Regions from separate parts of the Homo sapiens genome. Here all the other regions are linked to region 3. The links come from fine-mapping of genetic effects on gene expression. A gene starts in region 3. Each other region holds a variant in brackets. All regions are shown on one strand. Distances are between the middles of the regions.

Region 1 (8,172 bases), 26 kb after region 3:
GGACCAGTTCATCTCACTTATGGGACAGAAAGGCCACGCGCTGCTCATTGACTGCAGGTTGGGCTCGCTCCCCTCGTCCCCTCCCGCCCTGCACTCAGCAGCTCCTGGGTGGGAGTGTGCCCACTGCCTGGCGCAGCAAGCACACGCTTGGCCTCGTCATCTCCCCCATTGTAACTCCACCCCAGGTCCTTGGAGACCAGCCTGGTGCCACTCTCGGACCCCAAGCTGGCCGTGCTCATCACCAACTCTAATGTCCGCCACTCCCTGGCCTCCAGCGAGTACCCTGTGCGGCGGCGCCAATGTGAAGAAGTGGCCCGGGCGCTGGGCAAGGAAAGCCTCCGGGAGGTACAACTGGAAGAGCTAGAGGGTGAGAACTGCCAGGGTGCTCTATCCTGGAGGCGGCTGTGCTCCCTGCTGGCGCCTCAGTGTGGCCTTGACCCTGCCTGGGACCCCGATCTCCAGGGCCTTCTGCCATGCTCTCCCCAGTCCCTTCAAACACTGCGCACCCAGGGTTCCAATCTCAGCAGGGCTGCTTGAAATCCTAAAATGGTCTTATCTAATCAGAAAAATCATGTTTCCATTGTGGAAAATGTAGAAAAGTACAAAGTAGAAAATAATAAGCTATAAGGCCACTACCCAGAGATAGCCACTGCTGACATTTTCACGTTTCCTTTCAGTATTTTTCCACATCTGTCTTCAAAGCTGAGTATATGTAATATATCATCACTTTCCCCCCCCACCCCCTTTTTTTTAAGAGGCAGGGTCTCATTCTGTTGCCCAAGCTGGAGTGTAGTGGTGTGATCATAGCTTACTGCAAACTTGAACTCTTGAGCTCAAGGGATCCTCCCAGCTCAGCCTTCCAAGTAGCTGAGATTACAGGTGTGCCACCATGCCCGGCTAATTTTTATCTTTGTAAAGACGGTCTTGCAGTGTTGCCCAGGCTGATCCTGAACTCTGGCCTCAAGTGGTCCTCCTGCCTTGGCCTCCCAAAGTGTTGGGATTATAGGCATGAGCCACTGCGCCCAGCCCATTTGCCGTGTTTTTTTTTTGGACACAGAGTTTCGGTCTTGTCACCCATGCTGGAGTGCAATGGTGCGATCTCAGCTCACTGTAACCTCTGCCTCCCGGGTTCAAGTGATTCTCCTGCCTCAGCCTCCCGAGTAGCTGGGACTACAGGCGCCCGCCACTACGCCTGGCACATTTTTTATAGTTCTAGTAGAGACTGGGGTTTCACCATGTTGGCCAGGCTGGTCTCAAACGCCTGACCTCAGGTGATCCTCCCGCCTCAGCCTTCCAAAGTGCTGGGATTACAGGCGTGAGCCATAGTGCCGGTCTCTTTTTTTTTTTTTTTTAAACTAAACATAATCTCAGAACCCAGAACCCTATCTTATCTTATGCCATGAAAGGCATATCTCGGTGTGGCTCTTTTTTTTTTTTTTTCTTTTTTTTTTGGTGAGGTGGAGGCTTGCCCTGTTGCCCAGGCTGGAGTGCAGTGGCGCAATCTCGGCTCACTGCATCCTCCACCTCCTGGGTTCAAATGATTCTCCTGCCTTAGCTTCCTGAGTAGCTGGGATTACTGGCACCCACCACCACGCCCAGCCAATTTTTATATTTTTAGTAGAGACGGGGTTTCATGTTGGCCAGGCTGGTCTCGAACTCCTGATCTCGTGATCTGCCCGCCTCAGCCTCCCAATGTGCTAGGATTACATGTGTGAGCCACTGCACCTGGCCTCCGTGTGGCTCTTTAAAGCTCCACAATATTTTAGCATTCAGGTGCTCTGTCATTTACTTAACTATTTTCTGATACACCTCACACTGTGATTAACTTTTTTTATTTATCTTTTTTATTATTTATTTATTTATTTATTTGAGACAGAGTCTTGCTCTGTCACCCAGGCTGCAGTGCAGTGGCACGATCTCGGCTCACTGCAACCTCTGCCTCCCAGGTTCAAGTGATTCTCCTGCCTCAGCCTCCTGAGTAGCTAGGATTAGAGGCATGTGCCACCACACCTGGCTAATTTTTGTATTTTTAGTAGAGATGAGGTTTTACCATGTTGGTCGGGCTGGTCGTGAACTCCTGACCTGGTGATCTGCCCACCTCAGCCTCCCAAAGTACTGGGATGACAGGCATGAACCACTGTGCCTGGCCATCTTTTTTATTTTTTAAAGAGATGGGTTCTGCTAAGTTGCCCAGGCTGGACCTGAACTCTTGGGCTCAAGTAATCTTCTCACCTAGTCTCCTGGGTAGCTGCAACCAAAGGCACCCGGTTTATCTGCATTCTCTTTTTTTTCTTTGAGACTGAGTCTTGCTCTGTAGCCCAGGCTGGAGCGCAGTGGCGTGATCTCGGCTCACTGCAACCTCCGTCTTCAGGGTTCAAGCAATTCTCCTGCCTCAGCCTCTGGAGTGGCTGGGACTACAGGCGTGTGCCACCAGAGCGAGTTAATTTTTTTTTTTTTTTGTATTTTTAGTGGACACTGGGTTTCACTATATTGGCCAGGCTGGTCTTGGACTCCTGACCTCAAGTGATCCGCCTGCCTTGGCCTCCCAAAGTGCTGGGATTACAGGCACAGGCGTGAGCCACTACACCTGGCCTATCTGCATTCTCTTAATAGTTTCTTAGAAATGGATTCTTAGGAGTAGGATTACAGAGTCAAGAGACACAAGTATTGTAGGCTGGGTGCGGTGGCTCACGTCTGTGCCTGTAATCCCAGCACTTTAGGAGGCCAAGGTGGGCAGATTCATTGAGCTCAGGAATTCGAGACCAGCCTGGGCAACATGGCAAAACCCCATCTCTAAAGAAATACAAAAATTAGCCAGGTGTGGTGGTGTGTGCCTGTAGTCCTAGCTACTTAGGAGGCTGGGGTGGGAGGATCAATTGAGCCCAGGAGGTTGAGACTGCAGTGAGCTGTGATTGCACCATGGCACTCCAGCCTGGGCCTCAAAGTGAGATCCTGTCTCCAAAACAAAAAAGATACAAGTATCCTTAAGGCTCCTGCTACACATGGCCAGGAAGGTAGTCTATTGGACAGTTTTAAGGTCATTATCAATATTAGCTCATTTAATTCCCTCCAAAACTCTGTAAAGCACATTCTGCTACCATAGTTGTCATATTTTTGATGGGGGAATCTACAGTGAGAGGCAGTGCTGGGATCTGAACCCCATCTGGACAGATTAGCTCCAGGGCCCATGCTCTTGACTGGCTGGCCGTGCTGCCCACACTGAGTTGTTCCTTCCTGGCAGTGTAGGTGTGCCTATCTCAGGGACACTAGACAGCTCCGAGGGACCTCCCTGTCCTTTTCCTTTGTGAACTGTGTCACGTTCTCCAGAGCAGTGCTCAGACCTGCCCTGCCTGCTCTGTGCAGATGCCCTTGGCCAAGGTTTTCACACTGGAACAAGTTGGTCCCTCCTCCCCACCCCAGCCTGTCCTTGCCCCTCCTCCAGGTCTCCTTCTGCATAGGAGCAGCTCACCCTGCCTCCTCCAGAGTCCTGCCCTAGAAGCGCAATCCCTCTCCTTCCATCCCCTGCCTGGCTGCCTGGCTCCTTCCCTCAGCCTCCAAGACATGCTCAGTTTTCTTCCCTCCTAAAACACCACCCACTGTCTCATTTCCATTCATTTCTTTCTTTCTTTCTTTCTTTTTTTTTGAGAGGGAGCCTCACTCTGTCACCCAGGCTGAAGTGCAGTGGCATGATCTCCACTCACTGCAACCTCCGCCTCCCAGGTTCAAGCAATTCTCCTGCCTCAGCCTCCTGAGTAGCTGCGATTACAGGCGCCTGCCACGATGCCCGGCTAACTTTTGTATTTTTAGTAGAGACGGGGTTTCGCCATGTTGGCCAGGCTGGTCTCGAGCTCCTGACCTCAGGCAATCTGCCTGCCTCAGCTTCCCAAAGTGCTGGGATTACAGGTGTGAGCCACCGCGCCCACCCATTCATTTCTCAGTCCTTTGAATCTACTTGCCCCTCCATCCCGCCATGCCACCTACCCTAACAACCTTCCCCCTTAAACCTGCGGGTTTGGCCGGGCGCAGTACACTGAGTCAGTACTGGTACTGACCCAGGTACCCCTCCAGCCTCAGCTCCAGTCAGATGGGACAGCCTGCTGGTCCCTGGCTGCTTCTGCCCCCTCTTCTGGAGCCCCAGCCCTGGAGGCTCCATGTGGCTCAGCAGAACTTCTTCTCCTCCTGCTCTGTGGTGGCCTCTTGAGGGCAGCACTCACCTTGGAAAGCATGGAGTGTTTCAACCCTCACTGCTCCCTGAAGGACCAAGGTGTCCCATTTTACAGTCGGGGGAGGAGGCACTGTGATAAAGGGGCTCTTCAGACCCA[C/T]GTCTGAGAGAGCCAGGCTGCCCTGCCCCCGCGGCCTTCCACCCTTCACCGTCCAGCCAGGGCCACTGCCATCACCGCCTGCTGGTCCTCACAGGCGTCGGGGCCCCAGGCAGTGAGAAGGCGGCTGCTGACTCCTCTTTCCTCCCCAGCTGCCAGGGACCTGGTGAGCAAAGAGGGCTTCCGGCGGGCCCGGCACGTGGTGGGGGAGATTCGGCGCACGGCCCAGGCAGCGGCCGCCCTGAGACGTGGCGACTACAGAGCCTTTGGCCGCCTCATGGTGGAGAGCCACCGCTCACTCAGGTGAGGCCCTCTGGGCGCCCCGCTCCTGCCGGGCACAGGCCGGCCCAGGCCCACCCCTTCAATATCCTCTCTGCAGAGACGACTATGAGGTGAGCTGCCCAGAGCTGGACCAGCTGGTGGAGGCTGCGCTTGCTGTGCCTGGGGTTTATGGCAGCCGCATGACGGGCGGTGGCTTCGGTGGCTGCACGGTGACACTGCTGGAGGCCTCCGCTGCTCCCCACGCCATGCGGCACATCCAGGTGGGCGGGCACCAGGGCCTGGGCGGGCAGGAGCGGCAGCTTCCCGGGGCCCTGCCACTCACCCCCAGCCCGCCTCTTACAGGAGCACTACGGCGGGACTGCCACCTTCTACCTCTCTCAAGCAGCCGATGGAGCCAAGGTGCTGTGCTTGTGAGGCACCCCCAGGACAGCACACGGTGAGGGTGCGGGGCCTGCAGGCCAGTCCCACGGCTCTGTGCCCGGTGCCATCTTCCATATCCGGGTGCTCAATAAACTTGTGCCTCCAATGTGGTACCTGCCTCCTCTAGAGGTGGGTGTATGCTTGGGTGTCAGAGAATGGGGGATGTCAGAACCGCTCCCCTACCCTAGGGGAGCACCTCTCAGGCCCCAGAAGAATGGGCAAGGCAGGGCCTAGCAGTAGCAAAACCATTTATTAAGTGCAGAACAAAGGCTGGGTCCTTGTGCTGCTCCCAGCTCTTTGGTTACAAATAGGTTTGGGCCCACAGAGGACGGACCTTGCCCCCTTCATGCCTCCCAGGAGACACCTAGCCCCTGCTCTGTGCATGCGGGTGGGCTGGGCCCCCAGGGGTGCAAGGATGGAGTAGCTGAGGAGGCTCCGGGAGAGGAGTCGGGAGGACGCCTAGTGGGACGTGGCGGGGGTGGGGCAGGGTGCGGTCAAGTTTGGAAGAACTGTTGGTCCATGTGGGTGCTAAGGGTTCCGCTGGTGGTCAGTGTCCGGCTCACAAACTCCTGGGTCACATGCCGGGTGAGGGAGCCGCCTGCCTCCAGGTGCTGGGCCCCCAGGGTCAGCCCATCTGTGGAGGAGGAGGCATTAGATGACCTGGCTTGGGGTCTGCCCTTCTCCCTCTGCTAGCTCCCTGTCCCAGGAGAGCCGGGATCCCCTAGCCCTCAGTGCTCACCCACTAGGAAGGGCTCGGTGGCGCTGGTGTGGGTGGTGGTGATGCTGCTGTACTCGCTTTGCAGCGGGTGCTGGAAGAGCCCGGCACGGCTGCCCAGCTGCGGGAAGGGTCCTGGGGTGGGCAGATAGGCCAGTCAGAGGGTGGTGCCAGAAGGAGGCACGGCCCGAGGAGGGGTGGGGGTGAAGGAAAGGACAGGTGCCTACCTCCATCCTGGGACTCTATGGTGATGATGCCCTCGCGCTCTGGCCCGAAGCCCTCAGTGGTCCTGGCCTGCACCTTGAACTTGTAGGGCACGTTCTCGCTGAGGCCCGGCACGGTCAGCCGGCTCTCGGGGCTGTCTCCATCCACCCGGAATGCGGTGGCTGGCCCTGAGCAGGGAAGATGCCTTCAGCGTCTGCGGCCCCCTCTTTACCCCTCCCCTGGCCACTCCTGCCCCCGGGGTGGGCAGCACCTCCTCCTTGGGCCATCTCACAGGTCACCAGGTAGCCGACGATATCCCCATTGGGCCTCCGTGGCCGCTCCCAGCTCAGCTGCAGCGAGTCTGGGCTCAGGGCAGTGAACACCAGCGGGCCTGGGGCACTGGGAGTGCTCAAAGTGAAGGCGGAGCCTGGGGGCAGTAGAGGAAGAGCATCAGCCTGTGGGTGGGTGGTGGGCATGATGGGGGCAGCTCTGGGGCTGGGGGAGGCAACTCACCTGGCAGGGGACACAGTGGGCTCTGCGGGTGCACCTGGGATTCAATGGTGATGACACCCTCACGCTCTCGGCCCCAGCCTTCCTGGCTCTGGGCCCGCACGCGGAACACGTAGGAGTGGTTGGGCAGGAGGTCTTCCACCACCACCGAGGTCTGGGCAGGGTTGGGGATGTTGAGCCGATGCAGCTCACCTGGGGGGATCAGGTGGGGGCACACAGTAGTGCAGTGTTACTCCCACCCCTGGCCTGATCCTCCTCGTCCCTAAGCTGCCATCGAGACCTAGTTATCACCCACCCAGGACTAGCTGTGGTTTGGGTACAGGTTGGGTACAGTATGGTATGGCTGGTTGTTCAGATTGTGTACTATACAAGAGTGGAGCCTGTAATCCCACTCATGTTTAGGCAACATCCTGCATCCTGGTCATGCTGCTTTGAATGTGCCTGCCCAGGGAAGTGCCACTTCCTTGTTCCCCCAAAGGCATCTCAGGCCAGCAGAGGCCCTAGGATCCCAGCCCAAAGGGGCCTTGTTAGGCAAAACCTAGCAGAGAATGACCAGGAGAGAGGCCCAGGGAGGTGGGTGAGACCTCAGAAGAGGGGAGGCAAAGAAGTGGGGTGGAGAATGGGGTGGGAGACCCTCTCAGGCTGGATGGGGGCTTTAGCGCTCAAGGGACTTGGGTGGGTTCCTGACACAGCTGAGGTACCCTATGTGTCACACTGGGGCCAGGCCTTGCAGGGCTGCACCCCGCAGCCTGGCAGCCACCATGCCTCACCGCCGTTCAGCAGCTGGTACTCCACACTGTAGCCCTGCAGCGGCCGCTCGCACCGCGGCTCCTGCCAGCTCACTCTGAGAGATGTGGGCCCCAGGGCAGAGAACACCAGGCGGGTGGGCGTGTCGGGCACACCAGCAGTCAGGCGAGAGTCTGGGGACAGGAGGCCGCAGTCAGCCAGAGATGCAGGGGCTAGGGTCTCAGTGGGAGTCACAGTGCTGCCCCCTGACCTCCCTCCCTCAGCTGGCATGTCTACACTGACCGCTGGCTGGACAACTCACTCACCCTGCAACACCCTGTCCAGGCTGCCCAGCACCTACCGCACATCCTCCAGCAGGGTGCAGGCCCTGCTTGTGCCAAAAGAGAGTGAGCCCCGTGAGTCTGCCAGCCCCACCCCCTCAACTGCTCAGCTGGCCTGGCCCCTCTCCTGCCCCAGCCCCAGCCCCGCCCCCTGGGAGGGCAGAGGCAGAGTTAGGCATCAGCACTGATGGTAGGGCAGGTGGTTAGCGCCTGTGGGCAGGCGGGGGTCCTGTGGATGGAATGGAGGGGAAGCAGTGGGCACAGCTGGCGGCTGCTATGGTGGCTGGATGACAGATGGAGCAGGACAGCTGTGGAGACAGGATGGCCACCCCTGTACTACCTGGGCCCCAGGAGGGCGCTGCTGGCCTCCCAGCCAGGATTATAGAGTCTCGTGGGCCCCTGGAAGGGGGGAACCCTTTCATCTGAGCCCGACTCCGGGACCCCAGGGCCCAGGACAGCGGAAGCCTGCTCCTCCCGTGTTCCCAGATGGGAGGGAGGCCTAGGGCAGGACAAAACAAGAGTGAGAGGAGCAGGGAGTGTGCATGCATGTGTGTACGTGTGCGCATGCATGTCTGTGTACATGTGTGCATGCGTGTGCACGTGTGTGCGTGCATGTGTGCATGCGTGTGTGTATGTTGGAGAATGGGCGGTGGGG
Region 2 (8,172 bases), 31 kb before region 3:
CTGTGAAAGAGACCAGGCCCAGCCCTGGCAACTGAGACCCCTGCTCTCACCTGCACTGGCCTCGTGCCTAGCACTTCAGCCCCATTACTCCATTCAATGCTCACAACGTTAGGAGGTGGATGCTGCCGTTATACCCATTTCACAGCAGAGGAAACTAAGGCAGAGAGGCTCAATCACTTGTCCAGGGTCACACAGACAGGAATCTGACTCTGCCTCCTCGCCCAAGGCCTCTGCCCTAACCCCCAGCCTAGCTGATATGCCGTAGATGGGGTGGCCAGAGGCACCTCCTAAAGGCGCAGGTTCCTGCCCCAGTTCTCCTGAGTGAACCACTCCCTCTCTTACCCAAAGATCCATGTGATGCTGAGGTTCCCAAAAATGTGTTTTCCGACTGACTCAGGTGGCCCTGGGGCTGCTGCAGGAAATGCGAGGAGAGGCTGACGGGAGGGGACGGGGATGCTGAGTGGAAGGAGGCAGAGCTGCCCAAGGAGCCGGGGATGTTCACGGGTGCAGAGCTCTGCAGCAAGCTGCCGCCTGCAAGAGAGGCCCGGGGAGGACGGGCTGGGTGAGGGCAGCGGAAGCCAGGCGGGCCACACAGAGCAAGGGGCCTGAGCCAGGCAGGAACCCGAGGAGTCCTCCAGGCTGCCCTGCCCACCCACACCCAGTACCGATGGTGATGCTTCCTGGGTGGGGCACTGTGCTGTTATCGAAAGTCTTCTCCAGGGCGGCCACGCCAAACTCATTCAGGTCCAGGTCATCCAAAGCAGACTCTAGGGACAGAGAAGAGTGGGATGTGACCTCCCGAGGGACTATCTGACCCTGACCACCTCGTCTACTGCCCACGCTGCATCTTCACGCCCATGCTACGCTGGGTCCGTATTCTCCCAAGCCCCTGTGCCCTTCCTTCAGCTGCTTCCTATGCCAATCCTGACTCCTGACTTCTGACACCGTCTGCCAGTCATGTCCAACCCAAATGCCTCTCCTTTCTGAATCTTCTTTGATACTTCCAGGAGAAATCACATCCCCATCCAGGGTCCCTGCCTCGGACAAGGGTCTTGTCCCCTGATGTTACAACTCAAGGGTCTCAGCCCCGGGATCAGTGGGGGTGGGCGGGTCTCTGGGCACTCAGTGGCTGGTGTATAGCAGGTGCTTGACAAATGTCCACTGGGTGGGAAGTTTCCCTCTAGAGGGCAGGAGCAGCATGTTGTCATCTGTCTCCTCAGTGCCTGCCACAGGACCTGGCACAAAGCGGGCACCTAGAAATGAGTACTGAAAGAAAGGAGCACCAACTTCTAGCACCAGGGATTCTGAGAACGTCGTGCTGGCCATTCACTACACAAGGACACCAGTGAGATGAGTGGGGACTGAACAACACGTCTTGGGGTGAGACTGTACTCACCAAGGGGAAAAGGCACCTCTTTCTAATTTGCACAAAGGAGCTCTAAGGGTCAGTCCTGGCCCTACACCTTGGGGTCATTTCCCCTTTAGCTCAAAGGACTCAGAGTGCCCATCCCCTGATTTTCCGAAGACAGATGTCTAAGGGGTCTGGTGTGCTGATTTGAGACTCGCTTCAGAGACTGGGGGGTCTCTGACCCCAGACCCAGTCCTGGGCTTTCAAACAGAAATGGCCTAGTTACCTATGACTGACTCTACCGTGTCGCTGGTGGGGTAGAAGGGCAGAGCGTTTGCATTCATGCCGGGGACGCTGCTGGTGCCCACTGGGCTAGGGGGGGTAGCTGCCAGGCTGGAGGTGATACTAGAAGAGATGCTTGAGGTCAGGGGGCTGCCTGCGGGGAGGATGCCCAGCATGTCCTGCAACGAGAGAGGGAAGAGGAGAAGCAATGGTAGGCCTGCATACGGAGGCCAGGACGAGAGGCTGGAGAGGGGCTGGGGGCAAGGGAAATGGCCCGTGCTAGCTCTAGTCCGGGTGCCCCCATGCCCACATGGGCCCCGGCACACCCGACACCTTGTTGAGAGCATGGAGTTGGAGGTGCGGAGGCTGCCAGGCCCATTCGCCCCTACAGTCCTGTAGCAGGGAAGAGAGAAGCGAGTACAGGGCCTGGCAGAGTGCAGAGGCTCCAGGAACACCTTCTCCACTGAGTCTAGGAGGTGAGGGGCTCCAGGGCCTGACCCCCTACCCTCTCTGGATTTGTGGCTGGGACCCCACTTTAGTCCTGCCCTCAGCTTTTGGGAAAAGTGGTGCCTCCCACTCCCCGAAGCCTCCTGGGGTTCTGGGCCACTCCTGTCCACAGCAGAGGGGAGGAAGGGGGCTGAGAGCTCTATACCTGTTTGGGCTGAAGCAGAGGCTGCTCTTGACTCCTGGGCTCTAATGAGTGGGGTTTTAATTTGGCCTGAGAGAGAAAATTCAGGGAGTGGATGAATGTGGTGCTGGGGGGTCCCTGAGTCCATCTGACCCTGAGGCTGCAGGTACCAGGGGGCAGGTGGTGGCAGACATGCAACCCCTCTTCACATGCATGCACACACCCCCTTCTTCCTCCCCACCCCCTACTCCCTTCCCCTACCCTAAGCAGGGAGCTGCCCTTCTCCTCCCGGTGACACTAGGCCTCATGTAAGCCCAGAAGGTATCTCTCCAGGCCCAGTTAGGGACCCCTGTGTCCTGCTTCCCCAGGCCCTGTCTTTCCATGAAGGCAGTTCAGGGCAGCCGAAGGACCGCACCCAGGCGGGATCTGGCTCCTCTCCTAACCAGCTCTGCAGCCCAGGGGAGGCTATGCAGCCTCCCCAGCCTTCCTGTCTTCAGCTGCAAATGGGCTGACACTGCTCCCTCTGTTCAGTCCTGAAGAGGCCGAGGACAGTGGAGTCCTAGCTCCCAGTCATCCTCCCCGTAGCTGGACCAAGACACTCCTCCAAGATTCTCTTGCCCCACGCAGGAGAAGGCTAACCTCACTGCTGCCTCCCTCATCCCTTACCTGGCATTTGAAATTTTTCAGGTACTCGGCTCCCACCTGGTCTTCCCTCTCGAAGCCGGGAGCCTTCTTATAGCTGCCAGGGGCCAGGCCAGACTCCCCAGGGAAGACGATGCCCTCCAGGTTTGGGGGCTTCCTGATGGAGCCCGGTGGGGAGCCGCAGAGGTTAGACGGGCTGCCTAGGCTGCTGTTTCTACAGAGGAGCTGCGGAG[A/G]AGGAGGGGAGGGAGTGGGCCCGTGGGCACAGCGCAGGCTGGTGCGTGGCCCATCCTCCACCCTCTCCAGAGGGAGTCTTCAAGGGGCTCAGTTCCACTTTCATCTGCCAACGAGCAGCAGTGACCACTCGGGGAGCCCGAAGCTCACGAAGGAAAGGGGAGTGACCTCAGGCTTTGTCCCTGCCACCAGTCCTACAGGCTCATCAGCACAGGCTCTGGGGACTGCCCTACCCCACCCCCGGGCCTGGACTTTTGACGAAGAATGCTGAGATGGAAAAGACAGATCCCCCTGGCCTGAGGACAAATACCAGGATGGTCTCCCAAGCCCAGGCTGAAAGGGCCTAGGAGGCAAGTATTGGCTCTGTCAGGCATGGTGCCCACCCACTCCCCAGGATGGACACGTACGGCACTGAGGTCAGGGGCATGCGGGCTGGAGGGGCTCACAGGCACCGAGTCTCCGGCGGCAGATGGCATGTACAGGACAGGACCTGGCTGGGTGGGGCTGGACACAGCTGAGGAAGGCTGCAGGTCGTCACTCAGGGGTGGCTCTGCAAGAGTCAGGGGCAGGGGTCAGCAGGCCCCAGCCAGCTCTGTCCCTCCAAAAATGCTCCTGGGTCCCTTCCAAAGGAGACCACAAATCCCCCTGCACATAAAGGGAAGGTTCCTACGACATCTCTAGTAACACCATGTCTGTGCATTTACTGTGTGCCAGGCACTGTGCCAGCACTTTGCAGTAATTGTGAATCTTCATGGTGACCAGAAGATACCAGTAATATGGTCTCCATTTTATAAATAAGAAAACTGAGGCTCAGAGAGGTAAGGTAAACCCACCAAAGTGACAGAGCTAAAACACAGAGGAGCTGGGTCTTGAACGCTGATCTGTACAACTCCAAAGCCTGAATCACTTCCTTATGCCGTCTCAGCCAGGCGGTCCCAATGCCCATGGCCGGGGACCACCTCTGCATCAAGAATATGCTTCTCCCGCCCAGGGCCCTCGATTTATTTTCCATTCTCATCTCAGAGATAGGGCCTGAGCCTGGAAAGAGGTTAAGGAGACCCAGGGCAGTATCTTGGGGTGGAAAGAGGTGTTAACAGGTACAAACTGGAGCTCTGTCTCTGAGACTGGTGGCGGCCTACAGTATCATGCTGAGGATCCAGACCCACACTGTCCCACAAGGCAGCCGAAAGCCACATGTGGCTACTGAGCCCCTGAAACAGGCTGGTCTGAATGGAAATATCCCGTAGGCATTAAAATGCTATCAGATCTCATAGACTTAGTACAAAAAAAGGTGAAATGTCTTGATATTTTTGTATATTGATTATTGAAATAACCTTTTATGTTGGGCTAAATACAAATATGTTATTAAAATTAATTTAACAACATATTTTCCAATGTTTAATTCTTTTTTAATTTTTTTTTTTTTTTTTTTTTAAGACAGAGTCTCGCCCTGTTGCCCAGGCTGGAGTGCGGCGGCATGATCTCGGCTCACTGCAACCTCTGCTTCCTGGGTTCAAGTGATTCTCATGCCTCAGCCTCCCGAGTAGTTGGGATTACAGGCGTGTGCCACCATGCCCAGCTTATTTTCATATTTTGCTATTTTTGTTAACATGCTTAAATATTTTAACTTTAAAATGACATATGGGGATTGCACTATATTCTGACTGGCTAGCTCTGCTCTAGAGGCCTGAGCAGGACTCAGCAGAGAAGAGCTCCATGTTCCATTAGTGATGTCTGTCATGGGTATGACATGGGGTGGCTGGTGGGATTTGCCAAGTCAGCCATGGGAGGCACAGTGCCTCAACCCTCCCTGGAACCATGAGTGCTCAACCAGGCGGACAATCCCTGCAGTCTCTATCTCACTACTTTGGAAGCTCTAGGCCTTCAAGGCTACTTCCAGAAAGGTGGGGGAATGGAGCTTCCAGTGGGGACAAGGCCTGCTGCTGGCAGGCCAGAACTCCTGTGCAGGGCATACTGCCAGGGGCCATCCCCGGCCTAAGCCTGAGCTAGCCAGGCGAGGGAGGGGTGGGAGAGGGCACTGCCCCGGGGCAATGGGAACAGCATACGTTCTACGTGGGCAAAGGCGCAGAAGGGTCCTCGGGGACAGCTGCCCGACTGCTGCATGTCGTTGCACTTGGTGGACTTGTAGATCTGGAGGGCAGAGCACAGGCAAGTCAGGCTCAGGCCCTGAGGGAAGGCCGGGCAGGCTCCCCTTCCTCCAGCATGAGTGCGCTGGCTTAGTCATCTCTTGCCCTGTGTTCCCGGCCCCTCCCCTCCCCTCCACTATGTCTCTCCCTACCAGCTTCTTACTCAAACTCCTGAGGCAGCCCACCACCACTCCCCATTGTCACTGACAGCCTCCGTTCTGGGGCCACAGGTCCCACCAGCCCTCCCAAAGGGATCCCCCAGTGACTCTCCACTCACGGGCATGGCCAGGTCTGTGCCTCCAAGCGTGCCTCCTGGGCATTAAGGGAGCCACAATCTCAGGCAACTACCCCTGCCAATGTGAACCCTGTCAGGATACCCTGGGTTGTGACCTATATAAGTAACCTTCCACTCTGCTGTCTGCAGCTACATAAGGTAGTTTCTGTCCGCGTGTCTACCTCAGGGTGTCCTGGCTTCCATGGAACACCAAGGGCAGGGACTGCAGGTGCCTCTCTGAACCCCAGACAAGACCTAGGCACACAGATATGGCCCAGGCTACCTCTTGGGGCCAGAGGGCAAGGGAACTGTGTTAGGGAGGTTGCTGATAATCTAGGCCCTGATAGGAGACAGGGCAACAGGAAGGAGCTTACTTTTTTTCAATCCTTTTTTTTTTTTTTTTTTTTTTGATGGAGTCTCGCTCTGTCACCCAGGCTGGAGTGCAGTGGTGCGATCTTGGCTCACTGCAACTTCCGCCTCCCGGGTTCAAGCGATCCTCCCACCTCAGCCTCCCGAGTAGCTGGGGTTACAGGCGCTCACCACCAAATCTGGCTAATTTTTGTACATTTAGTAGAGATAGCATGTTGCAGGGTAGTCTCAAACTCCTGACCTCAAGTGATGCACCCACCTCGGCCTCCCAGAGTGCTGGAATTATAGGCATAAGCCACCGTGCCTGGCCCTATTTTTTCAATCCTGATGTCACTGGATTACAAGCACCATGAGTGGTGGAAAGCCCAGAGTGGCCAGGTCGCCACACTCCATCTACACCTGCCCTGTCAGGAGGCCTGGGGGACACAGAACTGGAAGCAGAGGGCTGCTTGGTGAGCGTGGGCTCAGAATAGGAGAAGATGCCAAATTCAGCATGCAGGGATCCTCTAGGCACTGCCAGGGGAGAGCTGGTGGCCACAAGTCCCTCTTCCAGGATGGCATCAGGATGGGTTCTGCCAACATCTCCACTGATCCTGCCTGCCTCTCTCCTTACTTCCCAAAGCCACCCCCCCACCCTGCTGTGGGGCCCACCTCGGGGTGGAACTGCTGCTCGGTGCGGGTGTGGCAGTACTGGCAGGCGTCTCCGTTCTCACACTTGCCAGGGTCTCCCCACTCATCCCCGTGCTTGACGTTTGGACATGGAGACGACCTGGCCAACAAGAGGGTGGGGTCAGATGGAGAAAGGAGAAGGTGAGATCGGAGCCTAGCAGGTGCCACCTGGACCCAGCCTCATAGGCATGAGCACAGAAATGGAAAAGACCAGCTGCAGAGTCAGGGCCTTGCTGGTGCCACAAGCCAAGCTCTTTCTCTGACCCAGCCTGGCCGAATCACCACAAAGGATACTGTTTGATTCCCCTCAGCCAGGCCCTCCCACTAGCCCAAGTAGGGTCAGGCTGGAGCTACAACCACACTGTCCACGCTGTGGCCTGGTCCTCATTCAACACATTCCCCTCAGGATCAGGAGCGGTGGAGCCTCAGAGACGGTCTGACCAGGGTCCTCATTCATGCAGGAGGTGAAGCTGGGCTCCTACTGTCCAGCTATCCTCACTATGCCCTCCCCTGGGCCCTGGGCTTGCGATCCTGTCATCCCCAGGACCAGCCTCCCCTCCTCCCGGAGAGCCAGTGGGAGCAGCCTCTGCCTGACCCCTTCCCTGCCACTCCTCCCTCCCGTGGCTGGCCTCCTGGGGCCTAAGGACCTGTATTTGTGCTTCCGGGGGCTCCGCCGCCGGTCCTTGCTGTTGTGGTAGTAGGGACAGGCATAGCCTTGGCGGCACAGCCGCGGGGGCTTCTTGCAAGGCTCCGTCTTATAGTTCCCCAGCACATAAGCAGTCTCTGCACAGGGGGCCAGAGGGCAGGGGTCAGGTGAGAGGAGCTGGAGCACCCCAAGACTAGCAGGACTGGAGTGGAGGGAAGGAGAAGCCACTGGGAAGGAGTTCAAGACAGGAGGCCCCTGCCAGATGTGAGTAGGGCCCCTCCTCCCAGGCCATGGGACAGCCCCAGGTGCAGCAAGGACAACAGATGCTGTCCATCAGAGAGACACTCACAGCTCACAGGGTGAAAGGGCACTCTTGCAGGGCGGAAAACATTTGCATGTGCGCTTATGTACGTGCCTGTGCACATGTGAAAGCCTGGAGGGATCTTGGGAACATGATGTGTCAGGGAAAACGCCCCTAGAGGCGCCTTTTGAATGGTGGGTGTAGGGTGGGATGCGGGCCAGGTCGGGGCCTCGGCTAGAGCAGGCAGTAGGTGGTGGTGAGCCAAATCCCCAGGGCAGCTATGAGCAGGATTATAGGGAGGGCGCGGCCGAGGTGTGGATGCCTGTACCTTGCCACCGAGGCTCCTCGCTGAGGATCTTTTCTATCATGGCATGGCTCGCAGCCCCAGCCGACTGGCCCTCTATGCTCCCCTCTACCGTGGTCTGGCCATTCTGCAAGGCCTCCATGGCCTGAAGCTCCCTGGGAGGAGAGGAAAGAACAGAGAGGGTGGAGAGGGGGCATGAGGGGGCAAGAACCAGAGTGCCAGCCCTCCACTGCAGTCTGAGGTACTCACCATCATTAGCCGCCAGGCCCCTGCCCTGGACCCCAGCCTACTGCCATCAGCCCAGCCCAGCACCCAGCCCACCTGATGTCGT
Region 3 (8,172 bases):
GGGCAACAGAGCGAGACTCGGTCTCAGAAAAAAAAAAAGAGGTCATGTGGTTCTTGTATTGGAAGAATAATAATACATATACATTATCGTTTTACTAAGTGCTAAGCAAATACTTGGAGCTGTACAATAAAGGAACTTCTGACATAACTGTTTTCTAAAAGGACTGGATTCCTAAGTCCAGCACAAGTGCCTGCTACACCAATTTGCTGAAAGGATTATTCCAAAGTTTCCCTTAAAGCAAGATTATTCAAGAGTTTAGAAAAAAAAAATCAACAAAATTATCCTTTAAACTATGTTATGAATAATCCTCTTGGTTTAGGAAAAGGAGGGCTCAAACTCTAAGAACTTTAATTTCAGCACAAGAATGAAGGGCAAGAAAGGGAAACCAATGGCAACATAATTTTTTGCTTTTAGTGTATTCAACTGTGTTTGCCAAGATTACTGTTATGGTGAGTGAGACTCAATTATCACACAAGTGTCTCTGGATTATTGCAAAGACTACAGCATGTTACCTAATTTCAAATAACATCAGGTATAAAACTATACAAAATTAATTAATGTATAAGAAAGTCCAGGTGAGGTGGCTCACACCTTCTCAGGCTCACGCCTTCCCATGCCACTGTACACCAGCCTGGGTGACAGAGCAAGATCCTGTCTCTTGCTCTGTCCAACCAACCTGGGTGACAAAAATAAATTTAAAAAAAAAATTAAAAATAAAAATAAAAGTGGCTGGGCGCGGTGGCTCACACCTGTAATCCCAGCACTTTGGGAGGCCGAGGCGGGCAGATCACGAGGTCAGGAGTTCAAGACCAGCCTGACCAACATGGTGAAACCCCATCTCTACTAAAAATACAACTAAATAAATAAATAAAAGTTTAAAAAGGTAAAAAATTTGACAGGCAGACGGGAACAGTGGCTCACGCCTGTAATCCCAGCAGTTTGGGAGGCCAAGGTGGGCGGATCACGAGGTTAGGAGTTCGAGATCAGCCTGGCCAACACAGTGAAACCCTGTCTCTACTAAAAATACAAAAATTAGCCAGCCATGGTGGCGTGTGCCTGCAGTCCCAGCTACTTAGGAAGCTGAAGCAGGAGAATTGCTTAAACCCGGGAGGTGGAGGTTGCAGTAAACTGAGATCACGCCACTGCACTCCAGCTTGGGCAACAGAGTGAGACTTTGTCTCCAAAAAAAAAAAAAAGAAAAAATTGACAGGCAAAAACTTACAAATATTCAAAAGGGGTCTATCTCTGTATTCAAAATGGGATCAATTATTATCAATGATCAATTATTATTCCACTCCGTATGTCCATGTGTACCCACTGTTTACCTCCCAAGCAGCTCAAATTTTCATTTAAAATCAAAATCAAAATGCTCCCGCCCCCTAACTCCCAAGGGCAATAAATGAATTCACCTTATGGGGGTGGAGGGAAGCAGGTATGGTGGTATGTGCCTGTAGTCCCAGCTACTCAGGAGGCTAAGGCAGGACTGCTTGAGCCCAGGAATTCAAGTCCACCTGGTTAACACAGAGAGATCACGTCTCTCTTTTTTTTTTTTTTTGGACCGAGTCTCACTCTGTCACCCAGGTTGGAGTGCAGTGGCACAATCTCTGCTCACTGCAACCTCTGCCTCCTGGGTTCAAGCGATTCTCCTGCCTCAGCCTCCTGAGTAGCTGGGACTGCAGGTGTGTGCCACCAGGCCTGACTAATTTTTTGTATTTTTAGTAGAGACGGGGTTTCCATGTTGGCCAGGTTGGTCTCGAACTCCTGACCTCAAGTGATCCACCCACCTCAGGCTCCCAAAGTGCTGGGATTACAGGTGTGAGCAACCGCACCCTGCCCATGTCTCTTTTAAGAAGAGGAAAAAAAAAAAAAAAGCTGGGTGTGGTGGCCTCCCAGCACTTTGGGAGGCCAAGGCCCAACAGTAGATTGCTTGCGCCTGCTCGATCACAGGAGTTCGAGACTAGGCTGGGCAACATGGCAAAATCACGTCTCTACAAAAAATACCAAAAAAATGTATCCAGGTGTGCCTGTAGTCCCAGCTACTCAGGAGACTGAGGTGGGAGGATCACTTGAGCCAGGGAGGTCGAGGCTACAGTGAGCTGAGATGGTGACACTGCACTATAGCCTGGATGACAGAGACCCTATCTTAAAAAAAAGAAAAAGAAAAATCAGAGCCAGCAAGTGTGCTGGTTCCATCATATGTGTCCTCATGCTCCCTGCACCTCAGCCCTAGGAGGACTAGGGGATGAAGTTTTCCAGGTCATCACAGCTTCTGAATGCTAGTAAGTCTAGCAAGAAAGACCACTGATTTCTATCTCTGATTTTTGGAAATACAAATATAAAAACACACATACATATGAACAGACAAAGAGATAAGAACACCTACAACCTCCCATCAAGCTTGGCTATTTCACCTACTCCTGTTGATTTCCTAAGACACCTCAAGAGCCAGGTCCCATTACTCTATACTTACCCACAAGGAATGGAAAGGCAGGCTTTTTTTTTGTTTTTGTTTCTGTTTTTTGAGACGGAGTTTTGCTCTTGTCGCTCAGGCTGGAGTGCAGTGGCACGATCTCGGCTCACTGCCACCTCCGCCTCCCGGGTTCAAGCGATTCTCCTGCCTCAGCCTCCTGAGTAGCTGGGATTACAGGCGCCCGCCAGCACACCCAGCTAATTTTTTGTATTTTTAGTAGAGACGGGGTTTTGCCATATTGGGCAGGCTGGTCTCTTCACTCCTGACCTCATGCGATCCGCCTCGGCCTCCCAAAATGCTGTGATTACAGGCGTGAGAGCTACCACGCCCGGCAGGAAAGACAGGTTTTAAACAAATGAGCATCAAGAGGACAAAGACTCAGATACTGACATTTAATCAGCTGTTCACTTGTTTCACCTGTCAATTCCAAAATAAGAAAGCCTTTCTATTACAGATTCCATAGTATGCTCAATGACAACACAACACAGAAACACAAGTTGCTGAAGCCAAGACTCTCGTGACTCAAAATGTGTTTATTTTGCTAAAAACAGTGATCTGAGCAACCAGAGATTATAAAGAAGTTCCAATTACGTGAAGTTTCCAGATTCGAAAATCAAGACTACACCATTCAACTCATCAGTAGTCTTTGAGCTAAGAACATCTCACCAAAATCAATGGAAAGACTGCGAAAGATCTCCAGTAAGAAAGGACCAGGAAAGCAATGTCCATATCAGAAAAGGAATGGTTAACGTGAGTCAGACTGTAGTCAAGAAGCTTAAATGATTTCAGCCAACAACAAAGAATCCCACAAAGAAACCATACACTTCCTATAACCAATGTTCCCCAACCCCAGAACAGTTTCCCAAGGTCTTCTATAACAAGAGTTCCTCCTGACTGGTTTGAGTTCTTTCTACTCCAACAGATGATTCTGTTCTTCGTTCACTGAACAACTTAAGAGCTGTTCAACCCCCCAGGTTCCAAAACCTCTCGCAGCTGGGGATCCTTTTAAACATGCACATCACTCAGGAGCCCATGGGGATGAGAGGCATTCACAGAGCATCAGGGAAAATGGAAAGCAACATTTTGCTTAACAGGAGAAACCGCCCCTTATTCATCTTTCTCCCACATCACCTAACTCTAGGGAATGCTTAACGTGGCTTGAAGGAAATGAAGACAGCGACCTAAAAGCACACAGATGCAAGACTTCCAGGAAGAGGTTTTCCCATCCTGCTGGACTCCTGTAGTGTCAGTATTTGGGGCTCCCTCTAATGCTACATTTCTGCTGAGCCTGCAGACATACTTGGAACCCATCACCTTCGGGCTCCCAGACTCAGGCTCCGCACAGCCCGCGAGGGAAACGGTCATGGGCACGCACGGACACGTTTCCATCTTTGCATGTTTATCTACGTCGACTGTGAATTCAAGCAAGTGTGGCCCTCGTGGACAACCTACGAGCCTTAGGGACACAAAAGGCTTCCTGCGCAAACTGCACGGAATCTCCTGACAGGACTTCACGTTAATCATCATTCATAGGTGGGTTCTGGGGCTGGACCCCACGGAACTCCTCTTGGTTGTGTCTTGGACTTCTCACTGCCCCAAAGGAGCCTACTACTGTGGTTTTATGGTCTGAGGAACAGTTAGGCCTCGAAGGCCTGGCCTAGGGAGAGTGCACTCTGCATCCCGAGCTCCCGCCTTCCCCACTCGGCGGCCGGGACCGAGTTTCCCGCCCCACAGCCCGACCAGAGGTTGGTGGCAGTTGGAGGCAGTTGGGACCGGCCCCAGCAGGTTGGAACCGGTCTGGGCCGGGCCGGAGGAGGAAGGGGGGGAGGAAGAGGCCGCCTCGCGCTCTCCCTGCGCGCGTGACTCACGCTGGCCGCTGACGTCAGGCGTGCGCGCGCGGCGGGGGGGGGGGGGCTCTACGTACGTGTAGTGCTGCGGTTTCTCGGGCTGTGCCTGCAGCACCTGAGCGGTAGCGGCCGGGGGCGCCGAGGAAGCTGCGGAGCCGCCGGGCCCGGGGCCCTTCGACATGGTCTTGTCTTCCTGCCTCTTCGCCGCTCCCCTTTTATTATTCAGTCTGCGCGGTCCGCGCCGAGGACCCAGTGCGCCTGCGCCGCGCCACGAGAACGTGAAGACCCCCCACACGGCAGCAGGGGTTGCTGGGAGTTGTGGTTCTATGTCCGGCTGGAATTTTACCGTCGGCAGAGGGTTGCTGGCAAAGCACAGGACCACAATACCCAGGGATCCTTGCTGCTAGTGTCCCGGATGCTGAGGGCCTGCGACGGCTTCTGGGAATTGCAGTCCGGTCGCATTTCTCCTTCTTACCAGCGCGTTTTCAGTTTCATAGGGAAGCCTTTCCATGAAACTGGAGCGCCTGGAGGAGAAGGGGCCCAGAGCTAGGGAGGCCCTAGCGATTTCTGCGAAAGAGTTCCAAGTATAATTTCACTGCCAACAGTGTCATAACTACTTTGCCTTTATACTTAGTACAGCTAGGTTCGGTTCTAATGCCAGCTCAGAGCAGTGCTCCAAGCAGGGCTTAAGAATCTGTGTTGTCGGTTCTTAGTTCTGGGCCCTGTGCTGCAGGCACCTGCAATCCGCCAGCAACCCCTTCATCCCTGCGGCGGGTCTAACCTAAGAGGCATTGAGAAAGCTTTGCTAAGGAGGAGGTACACCGCACGCTACAGTTCCCGCGCCTTTGCCGAGGCGCTTCATTTACCTTTGCCAAACTCGACACCTGGAACTCCACGACTTGTGTGCTTTCTCAGCCTGACACCTGGCCTGACCAACTTGTTTCCAGTACATTAAGGGCCAAGGACGAATTTAATCTCCGCCTAGAATAGTCTCTGAGGTACACTGACAAGTTGCCAGTGTTGAGAAGCATCACAGGGTCCAGAGGAAAGGCCTGGGTTTGAGTAGGGCGTGCCCGTATTTATCCACTCTAGTTTTCTTGTCTGGACGTCAGCCTTTTTACTTGGGACATTATCTTTCCCCTCTCTGCTTCCCACCAGTCAAGCAAAGTTCTTCACTTTATAAAATAAGCCAGATGCCCCAGACCTAGGCATTTGTTTCTGTGAGTTTTAGAATGTTCTCCGTAGATATTTTAACCGTTGTCATTTAATTTGGTTTTTCATATTGAATCTATTTCAAATCCACTGGTTTTGATTTATATTTTCTTAGATGGGATTATATTAACAAATGATTATCTCATTAAAGAAACACATTCCAAATAACCTTAGGGATGAAGGGTGGTGGGGCTAATGGAAAATCGTTAATGTTTGAGTGACACATACTTATTTTATTTAGCTCCAAGTTCCCTCACATCAGAAGCCACATCACAGAGTTGAGAAACTGGTTTTTCCTAAACAGGCTAAATCGTTTAGCCACTAGGGGCGTTTGAAAATGAAAAATTACAAAAGGACAAATAAAAGTTGTAGTATATTGCTTTAATCCTATGATTAAACGCAAGTTACTTGGTTTATGTTAGCCTCACAATACTCAAGTGTGATCTGACTGAAGAAATAGAGTTCACAGCACTGGATTTTAAATAATAGATGTATATCATGAGCTTCAGAATAAGTGTGTACTGGTGGAGTTGGGAGATGATATCATCCAAACTGCTTAATTTACAAAAGAGGAAACCGAAACCCAGAGAAGCTAAGTAACTTGCACAAAGTTACTCAGCAAGTTGGTAACAAGAGGAACTAGGACAGTAGCCTACAAGACTACATCACATTCACTGTTGGGTTTTGTTTGTTTTGTTTTCTTCTGCTTTTTTTCATTGTATAAACATTTTTTATTCTTCCTCATTTCCTGTGTTGCTTTTCCTCCGTTGTACCAATCTGGAAAAAGTGAAACATACCTGCATGACTACGAAGTAAGAGAGACAGCCTTTTTTTTTTTTTTTTTTTTTTTTTTTTGAGGCAGAGTCTTGCTCTGTTGCCCAGGCTGGAGTGCAGTGGTGTGATTTCGGCTCACTGCAACCTCTGCCTCCCAGGTTCAAGCAATTCTCCTGCCTCAGCCTCCTGAGTAGCTGGGATTACAGGTGTGTGCCACCACGCCCACCTGATTTTTGTAGTTTTAGTAGAGACGTGGTTTCACCATGTTGGTCAGGCTGGTCTCGAACTCCTGACCTCACGATCCACCCTCCTCAGCCTCCCAAGAGCTGGGATTACAGGCGTGAGCCACTGCGCCCGGACTCCTGTTTCCACGAATCATACTTAAATGGATAAATGTATATCCATACCTTTTTTCTCCGGGTGGCTTTAGTTTCTAATAATCAGCAAAGCTGGAAAGAAAATGACTGTCCATCCACACAAAGGCATGGAAATGACAGGATTCTGTATAACCTAGAAAAATCGTGAAACACAGCAGGGAGTGGTGGCTGAAGCCTGTAATCCCAGCACTTTGGGAGGCCGAGGTGGGCGGATCACAAGGTCAGGAGATCGAGACCATCTTGGCTAACATGGTGAAACCCTTGTCTCTACTAAAAATACAAAAAAATTAGCCAGGCGTGGTGGCGGGCGCCTGTAGTCCCAGCTACTCAGGAGGCTGAGGCAGGAGAATGGTGTGAACCTGGGAGGCGGAGCTTGCAGTGAGCCGAGATGGCGCCACTGCACTCCAGTCTAGGCGACAGAGCAAGACTCCATCTCAAAAAAAAAAAAAAAAAAAAAAATCGTGGAACACAAAGTGGGGGACCAATTTAGAAAGCCTATTCCTCTTCTAGGCCAAAGTCAAAAAAAAAAAAAAAAAAAAGATGACAAGTTATTTTTCTGTTTGCATCCCAGAGAATTTGACAGCCTCATATGTGTGTCTAAACAGTCCCCTGTTTCTTAACTTGACACAGGTTTGAGAATAAAGCATGAGAATCCACCTAGGTTTCTCTTCTCAGCATGGCATTAATAAAATCATGTAATTTTTCCCTACCTCAAATTTTGAGTCAAAGGCAGAAATCAAAGTTGGTTATCACAGTAAATTTAGGTATATGATGATTAAATACATAATGTGCACGTTAAGATTAAGAAGGCTGGCTGAGCGCGGTGGCTCACGCCTGTAATCCCAGCACTTTGGGAGGCGAGAGGCAGGCGGACCACGAGGTCCAGAGATCGAGACCATCTTGGCCAACATGGGAAACCCTGTCTCTACTAAAATACAAAAAATTAGCCGGGCATGGTGGCGCATGCCTACAATCCCAGCTACTTGGGAGGCTGAGGCAGGGGAATCGCTTGAACCCAGGAAGTGGAGGTTGCATGGAGCTGAGATCGCGCCACTGCACTCCAGCCTGGCAGCAGAGCAAGAGTCCGTCTCAAAAAAAAAAAAAAAAAAATTAAGAAGGCTGAAATAATAACAGGAATTTGATACCAGAGATTGAGATGAAGCTGAGCTAGTTTTTCAAAGTGTGCATTTTTTTCTCATTGTTTGATACTTGACCACTGGTGTGACAAGTCAATATTGAGGTATTTGTACTTACGTACTGTAATTCTCTGAAGGTCAGGCATGGTGGCTCATGCCTGTAATCCTAGCACTTTGGGAGGCTGGGGCAGAAGGATTGCTTGAGTCCAGGAGGTCAAAACTGCAGTGAGCCGTGGTCACTGCACCACTGCACTCTAGCATGGGTGACTGGGCAAGACCCCACTTCAAAAAAAAAAAAAATTACCGGCCAGGGGCGGTGGCCCATGCCTGTAATCCCAGCACTTTGGGAGGCCAAG

The links. PIP is the estimated chance that this variant, and not a neighbour inherited with it, causes the effect.
Region 1: its variant is fine-mapped to the expression of UNK in whole blood (INTERVAL, PIP above 0.99).
Region 2: its variant is fine-mapped to the expression of UNK in whole blood (TOPMed, PIP 0.99).

Annotation. Positions count from the first base shown.
Region 1 is chr17:75,754,899-75,763,070 of GRCh38, reverse strand. ITGB4 (integrin subunit beta 4) reads right to left here. Exons shown (of 40, transcript NM_000213.5): 35 at 7,221-7,370; 36 at 6,454-6,642; 37 at 6,212-6,367; 38 at 5,964-6,128; 39 at 5,761-5,871; 40 at 5,253-5,655. The coding sequence ends at 5,516. GALK1 (galactokinase 1) reads left to right here. Exons shown (of 8, transcript NM_000154.2): 4 at 1-57; 5 at 186-367; 6 at 4,472-4,622; 7 at 4,699-4,861; 8 at 4,944-5,177. The coding sequence ends at 5,015. Among named protein-coding and RNA genes, the nearest start is that of GALK1, 6.2 kb to the left of the region's middle. RefSeq lists enhancers at 3,963-4,489, 4,490-5,016 and a silencer at 7,515-7,684. The variant C/T (reference allele first, on the strand shown) is at 4,323.
Region 2 is chr17:75,812,279-75,820,450 of GRCh38, reverse strand. UNK (unk zinc finger) reads right to left here. Exons shown (of 16, transcript NM_001080419.3): 3 at 8,163-8,172; 4 at 7,866-7,996; 5 at 7,238-7,373; 6 at 6,573-6,690; 7 at 5,198-5,282; 8 at 3,539-3,681; 9 at 2,925-3,125; 10 at 2,283-2,348; 11 at 1,635-1,809; 12 at 666-767; 13 at 343-531. Among named protein-coding and RNA genes, the nearest start is that of UNC13D, 28 kb to the left of the region's middle. RefSeq lists enhancers at 3,048-3,547, 3,548-4,049, 4,834-5,333, 5,334-5,835. The variant A/G (reference allele first, on the strand shown) is at 3,134.
Region 3 is chr17:75,781,207-75,789,378 of GRCh38, reverse strand. It overlaps UNK (unk zinc finger), which reads right to left and starts at 4,573. Exons shown (of 16, transcript NM_001080419.3): 1 at 4,395-4,573. The coding sequence starts at 4,498. It overlaps MIR4738 (microRNA 4738), which reads left to right and starts at 4,772; the gene lies at 4,772-4,858. RefSeq lists enhancers at 3,323-3,900, 3,912-4,311, 3,901-4,479, 6,042-6,221 and a silencer at 4,372-4,511.